2 separate regions of the Homo sapiens genome follow, and region 2 is reported to be linked to region 1. Evidence: microRNA targets listed by miRTarBase, many of them from high-throughput screens and not tested one by one. Region 1 holds a microRNA gene; the other region holds the end of a gene's coding sequence.

Region 1 (4,000 bases):
TTTGTTCTAAGGAACTTACAGTCTACTGGGGGACATTACAGAACAACTAAATTTATAAGATAATTGCACATTGAGATCTGTTCGGTATGCAGATCTGGCCCCCTCCTTATTTAAAAAGCTTCAGTGCCTTTATATAATCTCAGAATAAAGTGTAAGACCTTTTTACATGACATATGACGGGTGAGACTCTGTAATCTGGCCTCTGTCTCCCTGTCTAGGCTCATCTCTCTTCCCTACTTGCTTTTCATTTTATTGTCACATAATACTGATCTGTTCATGGGTCTCTGTACCTGCTGTTCTCTTACTTGCCTTTGTAACCCCGCAAATTCTGCCCTTCTACCTGAGATAACTGTATCCTTATTTGCTTGCTTAACTGTATGTTATCCTTTAAAAGCAACAAATGTGTCACTTCCTCCAAAGAGCATTCCCTGATACTCCACCCCTCCACCATAAGATGAGTTAGGTACCTCTTCTAGTACTGTGTAATTCCCTATCCTTATCTTTTATCACTGGACTTTGCTATTGTCTTAAAATTGTCTCTGCCTGAATCTTCAAAAATTGTCTCTGTCTGAATCTTGTCCTTTAGGGCAAAACATTTTTATTCTTACCTCTTAGAACAGTGCTTGGCACATGGTTGTTATGCTATACATTTATGTTGAACAAATGAACTACCAATTTGCTAGCAGGTCATTATCATATTAGACATTGTAAGAGTCTAAGGCAGTATCAGTGGAGACGGAGAGAAGAGGCTAGTTTCAGGAAGTATTTATAAAGCGGAATCAAAATGTTATAGCAGACTAGATATAAAAAGAGATTTGAGGTAGGAAAACTGCTGATTATGCCATTGCCTGACATAGGGATTCCAAGGGAGTGGGAGCAGGTGAGGAGCCATGATAAACTCAGTTTGCAGCATGCTAGTTTTAAAAAATGCTTGGCTAATAATACTATATTATTTCCTTGAGATTTGGTAAGAGCAGGTATTAAGTTCCTCATGACACCCACAGATGGTAATGATGGGTGGCAATAGATGTGTTAATTCATTTGTGGTAATCATTACACAGTGTATATCAAGTCATTACATTATACACATTGACTATATACAATTTTTGTTTTTCAATTAAGTATTTATTAAAAGGGAGCTTGGAGTCTATCCAGAAAGTAGTAGATAATAGACAATTACAAATATGGATACAGAACTTAACAGAAGTCAGAGCCTAAAACTATAGATTTGAAGTTATTTGCCTGCTAATGGTGTTTAGAACTAGTAGAGTGTTTTTCACCCAAGAAAAATGAGTGGGAAGCATTTGAAATGGTTTTATGGATGAGGTAGCATTTGAACTAATGTGTTTGAGAAAGCTCAGAAGGGCATAGTGACTAGGGAAAATTATTTTGTTTTCTTCAGTGATTGAGAATCTTCTAATTTCCTTAGTACATTTTCCTTTAAATTATTCCATATGTGATTTCTGCTTTCTTTATCATAAAATTAGTTGGTATATTCATTCTGAAGATCACAGAGATTGAATACTTGTTTTAGTGTTATTTTTCCTCTTCTGGGCCAAATTCCAGATTTTGAGTTTTCATCTTACTATTTTCTTCCTCATCATCATTTTGCTATCTACACACTTATATCGTTGAACCAATAACTGAATAACTTGTGATTTGTTGATTTAGAAAGCTTAGCTCTAGAAATGTTCTGTCTGGCTTGAGTGTTTTGTATGGTCAGCTTGGTCATTGTGTCCCTGTAACTGGAGACACCTGTTACGTTCCTCCTCAAGTTACTATTTATGAGGCTCAGCAAGGCCCTCAACTAAATCTTACGTGGTTTAATCTTTCCTGCCTTCCTCAGGTTTATGTGGGAGGGGTATTTTCATGACTCTGGCAGCACTGTTTATTTTGCTGCTTTCTGTTAATTAAATGTCATCTAATTTTTTATATGAATCTTTATAATACAAAGACTAAATTTAGATCTAAAATCAATGTTTTTTTATTCATTGTTTTCCCAATTATGCTGAATATATGACAGTAAGTTAAATGTCTGAGAGGAAAACATATCTTATCACTTGCTTAAACATGTCTTGATTTGAGCAGTTTTGCTTAAGCCTAGAGTCTTAGTACTTCAGCGTGATATTATCAGGTGAGTCATGTTATTATCATCTACCAGACTGAGACTTGGGCATATGTGACCATCACCTCAATTTCTGCAGAAACAAATATTTTATCTGTACCAATAGCCCTTGATTTTTCTCCACCTAGCACAACATAAGAGATACAACAGTAGCAGTGGCACGCTTGACAGTGATTTTTTTCCTGGGATTTGGGAGCTTATCAGAATCTCCAGGGGTACTTTATAATTTCAAAAAGTCCCCCAGGTGTGATTCTGATTTGCTTCCTTTTCCTCCTCCTGCTCTGAGAATCACCGTTTCTTTAGAAGCATCAGCATAAATAGGCACATGTATTAGTATCTTCTCCTGGTATGGTTGAGCTCCCTAACTCCCAAACCCCCATACTTGCCTTTTGAGTGATCTCCATTAGTTCTTTCTAATATCATAACTTTTGAAACAAATGTCTGTCACCAAAGGTATGGCTACCACCAAAACAACCTCGTTCATGTTTAGAAGCCTACAAAGCTTGAGGGCCAGGTTTAATAATACAGTTTAAATGGGAACCCTTTTTAAAGACTTACACTCAGGTCTGAGATTTATATTAACACTGACCCCCTCCCCCAGTTTTATTTTAACATTTTATGATGAACATTTTCAAACTTATACTGACATGGAAGGAATTTCAAGAGAACACCTGTATATCCACCTCCTGGATTCTATAACATTTTAATAAACTTGTTCAGTCACACGTCTACCCAAATATTAACCCCTCTATCCATGTATCGAGTCATCTTTTTAATGCATTTGACTGTGAATTGCAGATGTCAGTAAAATTTCCCCTAAATACTTCCAGCTTGCATATTATTACCTGGAGCTCAATATTTGTTAAGTGTTTTTCTTTTGATGTAAATTTATATACAGTGAAGGGTCCAAATCTTAAGTGCTTCTTAACTGAGTTTTAACAAATGATAAATCTGTATAACCTAAGCCCCTATCAAGATATAGAAATTTAACAACCCCTTTTTTCTGCCCAGTTATTTCCTCTTGACTTTACATAGTCTCTGAATTAAAGGTAAGAAAAAGATTTGTCAGTGCTTACAGGACAAATAGAGATTGATGTTTAATGACAGCAGATTTCTCTTCTCAATTGCCTGAAGCACTTTGTGTTTCAAATGGTATATGAGTGTTTTAAAATAGAAGACTGAGTGAATTACTTATATTTTCAGTTTTTAAAACATTATTTTGGAGAATATCAGATGTAAATACTTCAGATCTATTTTCTTAAGTATTTTATAAGGCAAGAGCTCTAGTTCAATGAAATATGAGGAGGTATGTATAGAAACAGAAGTGTAGAAGAGAAAGAAGGTGGAGATGAGATGGAAAAAAATCATGTAAATATTAACGTAATATTACAAATGTTATATTAAAAGGTGGTTAATTGGTTAAAATATCTATTATGTACATGTAACATCACTAGACATCATAGACTATCCTTACAACAGTGGGATGCCATTTATTAAAAAATACCAGCATATTATAATCTGCCTTTAGGAAATACAAATTAAATTCCTCTCACTATTGGTCTTGAGTGTTAGTCATTTTATTTTTAATGCCTTTATTCCTGGAAAATATCACTTATATGGCTTATTTTTAAAGTGAATGAACAGATTTTAACTTATACCAGTATATTTTACAGTATGCTTTTGGAATTAATTTGCTTGCATCTTATGAGGGGCAACACATAAGTTCATTTCTAATAAAATAATTCTGTTCCCCAAAGGAGAAGCTGTGACACAAATAAATTGATATTTCCATAATCAAAAGATATAGCAAACACACAGTCATTTGCATATAGTTCCTGAAATATTGCATACTGGCTTTGTCAATGCTGGTAAGTC
Region 2 (4,000 bases), not on the chromosome of region 1:
GAGAAAAAACGAATAAGCTCAAGAAGAGGAAATACAATAATAGTAAGGGATAGTGAAGGTTTAGGTGACTTTAAAAAGCACAAAATCATGGACAGTTGGAACTGGAATATGAGGAGTAGGAATTTGAACATGGTGGAGGTCAGGTCAGATGACAGAAGACAATACATCACAGTTACTTGGTCACTGAGAAGTGATGGGGGGCTGGTCCACTAGGGTAGAGGGAGCTCAGTCTGGGCCACCACAGCTCACCACCTCTTTTTCTCCCTATGCAGTTCTGAAACAGCTGGAAGAACTGCTGAGTGACATGAAAGCTGATGTGACTCGACTCCCAGCTACCATTGCCCGAATTCCCCCAGTTGCTGTGAGGTTACAGATGTCAGAGCGTAACATTCTCAGCCGCCTGGCAAACCGGGCACCCGAACCTACCCCACAGCAGGTAGGACCATTTTCTTCTTGACACCACCTCTTCCTGCAGAACCATTCTGGAGCTTGTAACTTTGCTGTATGTCCCTAGCTTTACATACTGGGTGGGTGGCCTATCAGTGAATTCCCTTGAGATTGGGTGGATTCCTATCATCTGGAATTCTGACTCCTCGGGTCTCCTTCTCTAGGTAGCCCAGCAGCAGTGAAGATGCAGACTGATACCACCTCCACCGCTGAGCAGTGACCTTCCTCACTTTCTCTTGTCCCAGCTTCTCCCCTGGGGGCCTGAGAGACCCTCACCTTCCTTCTGCCCATCTTCCATGTTGTAAAGGAACAGCCCCAGTGCACTGGGGGAGGGGAGGGAGTGAGGGGCAGTGGTGCCCTTCCTGCAGAAGAGACATGCAGCAGTAGCGCTGGCGCCATCTGCAGGAGCTGGCGGGCTGGCCTTCTGGACCCTGGCTTCTCCCCACTGTAACGCCTGTTACACACAAACTGTTGTGGGTTCCTGCCAGGCTTGAAGAAAATGATCTGAATTTTTTCCTCCTTTTGGTTTTATTTTGTTGGTTTATTTTGTGTTTTCTTTTCTCCTTTTTGGGGGGTATTCAGAGTGGGCTGGGCCCCTGGGCGAGACACAGCTACCTCTGTTGGCATCTTTTTAATACCAGGAACCCAGCGGCTCTAGCCACTGAGCGGCTAAATGAAATAAAGTGGAAAAAAAAAAAAAGGAAAAAACCAAAAGCATAAAAAACCACAGCAAATTTCTTGATGAAAATTGAAAATAAAAGTTTCCTTGTATTTTAGTGCTCTGGTTCAGTGTGGGTGTAGGTGCAGGTGGATGAGTGTGTGCGGCAGGAGCCTGGCACCTGTATAGTTGAAAATTAAGGGCTACGTGGTGTCCTGATACCCCACTGAGTAACTGGGTTCTGTGTGTGGGTGCAGTATGTGCCTTGCCAACGTTGACTTCCACCTGTGGAAAATGAGAGGCTGCAAAACTGCGGGCACCGCCGCTTAATGGCTCTGTGACCTTGAGCAAGTTGTTTAACTTTGGTGGGATGCAGATATCTCATGTATACCTCATACGGTTGTCAAGTTAAACCAGTGAAGTACATGGAACGGTTTTAACACCTAACCACTACCTTAATGTTAGTTTCTAGGAAGGCTGAGGGGGGTTTTCTTGCTAAGTTGTGCAAAATTGGGATGCAATTTGTGGAAGAACACAGCCTCAATCCCACACCCCCGGAGGCCCGACCTAACGTCCTCCAACCTTGAAACCCTTGTAGTTCACCCCTTCTCATGTCCCAGACCAGGTCAGCCTTGCAACCCGTTGTTTCCCAACTAATTGTAGACCCACCTGAAAGCGAGTTCCGGCGAAGAGGCCCCCTGCGAATGAGGTGCAGTGCAGCACCTTAATTGAGGGGCTGAGCAGGGGTCAGCATCAAGGAAGGTGCTGGGAGGGCGGGGCACGGTGGCTCACAGCCTGTAATCTCAGCACAAAGGTGGGGGCAGGAGGATCGCTTAAGCCCAGGAGTTCTAGACCAGCCCTGGCAATATAGTGAGACGCCACCCCCTACAACCCGTCTCTATAAAAAGATTTTTAAAAAAGGGGCAAAGAGGAGGAGGTAAGTGGCATGGAATTCCACGGTTTTTTTTGTTTGTTTGTTTTGAGATGGAGTCTCGCTTTGTTGCCAGGCTGGAGTACAGTGGCGCGATCTCAGCTCACTGCAACCTCCCCCTCCCGGGTTCAAGCGATTCTCCTGCCTCAGCCTCCCGAGTAGCTGGGACTACACGCGTGCGCCAGCCACCATGCCCAACTAATTTTTGTATTTTTAATAGAGACAAGGTTGGCCAAGATGGTCTCGGATTTCTTGACCTCGTGATCCGCCCGCCTCGACCTCCCAAAGTGCTGGGATTACAGGCGTGAGCCACCGAGCCCGGCTGGTTTTTTTGTTTTTTTTTTTTGAGGTGGAGTTTCGCTCTTGGTGAGGCTTAAGTGGCACGATCTCGGCTTACTGCAACCTCCGCCTCCCGGGCTCAAGCAATTCTGCCTCAGCCTCTCGAGTAGCTGGGATTATAGGCGCCCGCCACCACGCCCGGCTAATTTTGTATTTTTAGTAGAAGCAGGGTTTCACCATATTGGCCAGGCTGGTCTCGAACTCCTGACCTCAAGTGATCCACCCACCTCAGCCTCCCAAAGTGCTGGGATTACAGGCGTGAGCCACTGCGCCCAGCCTGGAATTCCGTGATCTTGACGCTGGACTAGGGCAGTGGATGCGAGGGAGAGGGCTCCAATGTCGGGCCCTGGTTCGAGGAGAAGGTGCGGCTTTCACCCAACAGAAACCGGCCGTGAGGCTAAAAGCCAACTCCATGAGGGAAGGTCGGTCAAGCTCAATGGTTTCGTCACATTGCTCCCTCCACCCGCCGCGGGTGTAAGCTGCGCGTCTCCTTCGAATTGCCCCCTACTCGCCGCCGCCGGCTCCGCTGGCGTTCCCAGGGCGAGCGTAAGTTCCGGGTGCGGCGGCCGACTAGGCGCAACAGGAAGAGGCGGGGCCGCGAGGCTAGCGCTACCCGTGCGCCTGCGTGGAACGATTCTGTGGCGAGTGCCGGCCGAAAGCTAGGTCCGGATTGCACGTGGAGGGCCGCCCGAAGGGCACTCTCGGACATTAACCCGCATTCTGGTGGGTCTAGAGGAAATTGGGGGACGAAGAGTGGCAGCACTGACCTGGTCTGGGACGTGGGGAGAAGGGTGCGCTACCTGGGTTTCAGGTGGGAGGGCGTTCGGTCGGGCCTCCAGGGGGATAGCGGGGGTGCTTGAGTCGCGGGTGCTGAGTCGGGAGTGCTGAGTGAGTTGCGGGTGCTGAGTTGAGGCTGTGCCCTTTCCCACTATAATACGCCAAGCGTGCGTTCTGCCGTTCCCTCCGACACGCGCGACGCCACCTTCTCCCATTTCTGCCTGCCACAGTACCATGGGGCGCAAGTTGGACCCTACGAAGGAGAAGCGGGGGCCAGGCCGAAAGGCCCGGAAGCAGAAGGGTGCCGAGACAGAACTCGTCAGATTCTTGCCTGCAGGTAAGGATTAGTTGTGGCCTCCTGATCCCTCAGCTTTTGCAGTATTCTGTATTATAACCTCTTCTCTTTTTTAGTTTCTGTTCATTTTATATTTAAGTGGAATCTTCTCTGTATGAGTTACTAGGAGGTATGAATGAAACAGCCGTTTAGATTGTAGGGAACTGTTTAGGTCGTAGAGATGTGAAGACACGGACACAACTATTATTCATGCAAGGGAAAAGTGTGATTTAAAACAATTGTGAGTTCAGAGGAAGGGGGAGCCCATGCAGAACTGTAAAAGTTTTTGTTAAGCTGGGTTTTGAAAAATGGGTAACATTGTAGCAAGAGGAAGTAGTGAAGGGGAGGGGTCAGTCACTGATTTGCCTTTTGGAAGGGGTGGAAATGGAAAAGCACGGATCTGGCTGCTTCATGCCGAGTAGTAGTATACTGTGTGGAAGACTGGTGGGAGGTAACACTGGACCGGGAGTTTGTGTTGGGCATTGGATAAAGGATGCAGTTTATTGAGATAGTA

What was found. The annotated mature microRNA hsa-miR-361-3p reads UCCCCCAGGUGUGAUUCUGAUUU and lies in region 1 at 2,362-2,384, shown strand. An mRNA with a match to its seed (bases 2 to 7 or 8) in the 3' UTR can be bound and repressed. Matches are read on the target gene's strand: a 7mer-m8 pairs with bases 2 to 8, a 7mer-A1 pairs with bases 2 to 7 and ends in A, and an 8mer does both.
Region 2: the mRNA of CHD4 is a reported target of hsa-miR-361-3p. Seed matches in the 3' UTR shown: 7mer-m8 at 701-707 and 8mer at 771-778.

Annotation. Positions count from the first base shown.
Region 1 is chrX:85,902,025-85,906,024 of GRCh38, reverse strand. It overlaps MIR361 (microRNA 361), which reads left to right and starts at 2,318; the gene lies at 2,318-2,389. The region is part of intron 9 of CHM (CHM Rab escort protein); the gene reads left to right.
Region 2 is chr12:6,567,305-6,571,304 of GRCh38, reverse strand. It overlaps CHD4 (chromodomain helicase DNA binding protein 4), which reads left to right. Exons shown (of 40, transcript NM_001273.5): 39 at 273-436; 40 at 612-1,223. The coding sequence ends at 629. NOP2 (NOP2 nucleolar protein) reads left to right here and starts at 3,014. Exons shown (of 16, transcript NM_001258308.2): 1 at 3,014-3,098; 2 at 3,383-3,489. The coding sequence starts at 3,387. It overlaps CHD4-AS1 (CHD4 antisense RNA 1), which reads right to left and starts at 2,934. Exons shown (of 3, transcript NR_199067.1): 1 at 1,775-2,934. RefSeq lists enhancers at 708-1,002, 2,670-2,719, 2,543-3,164.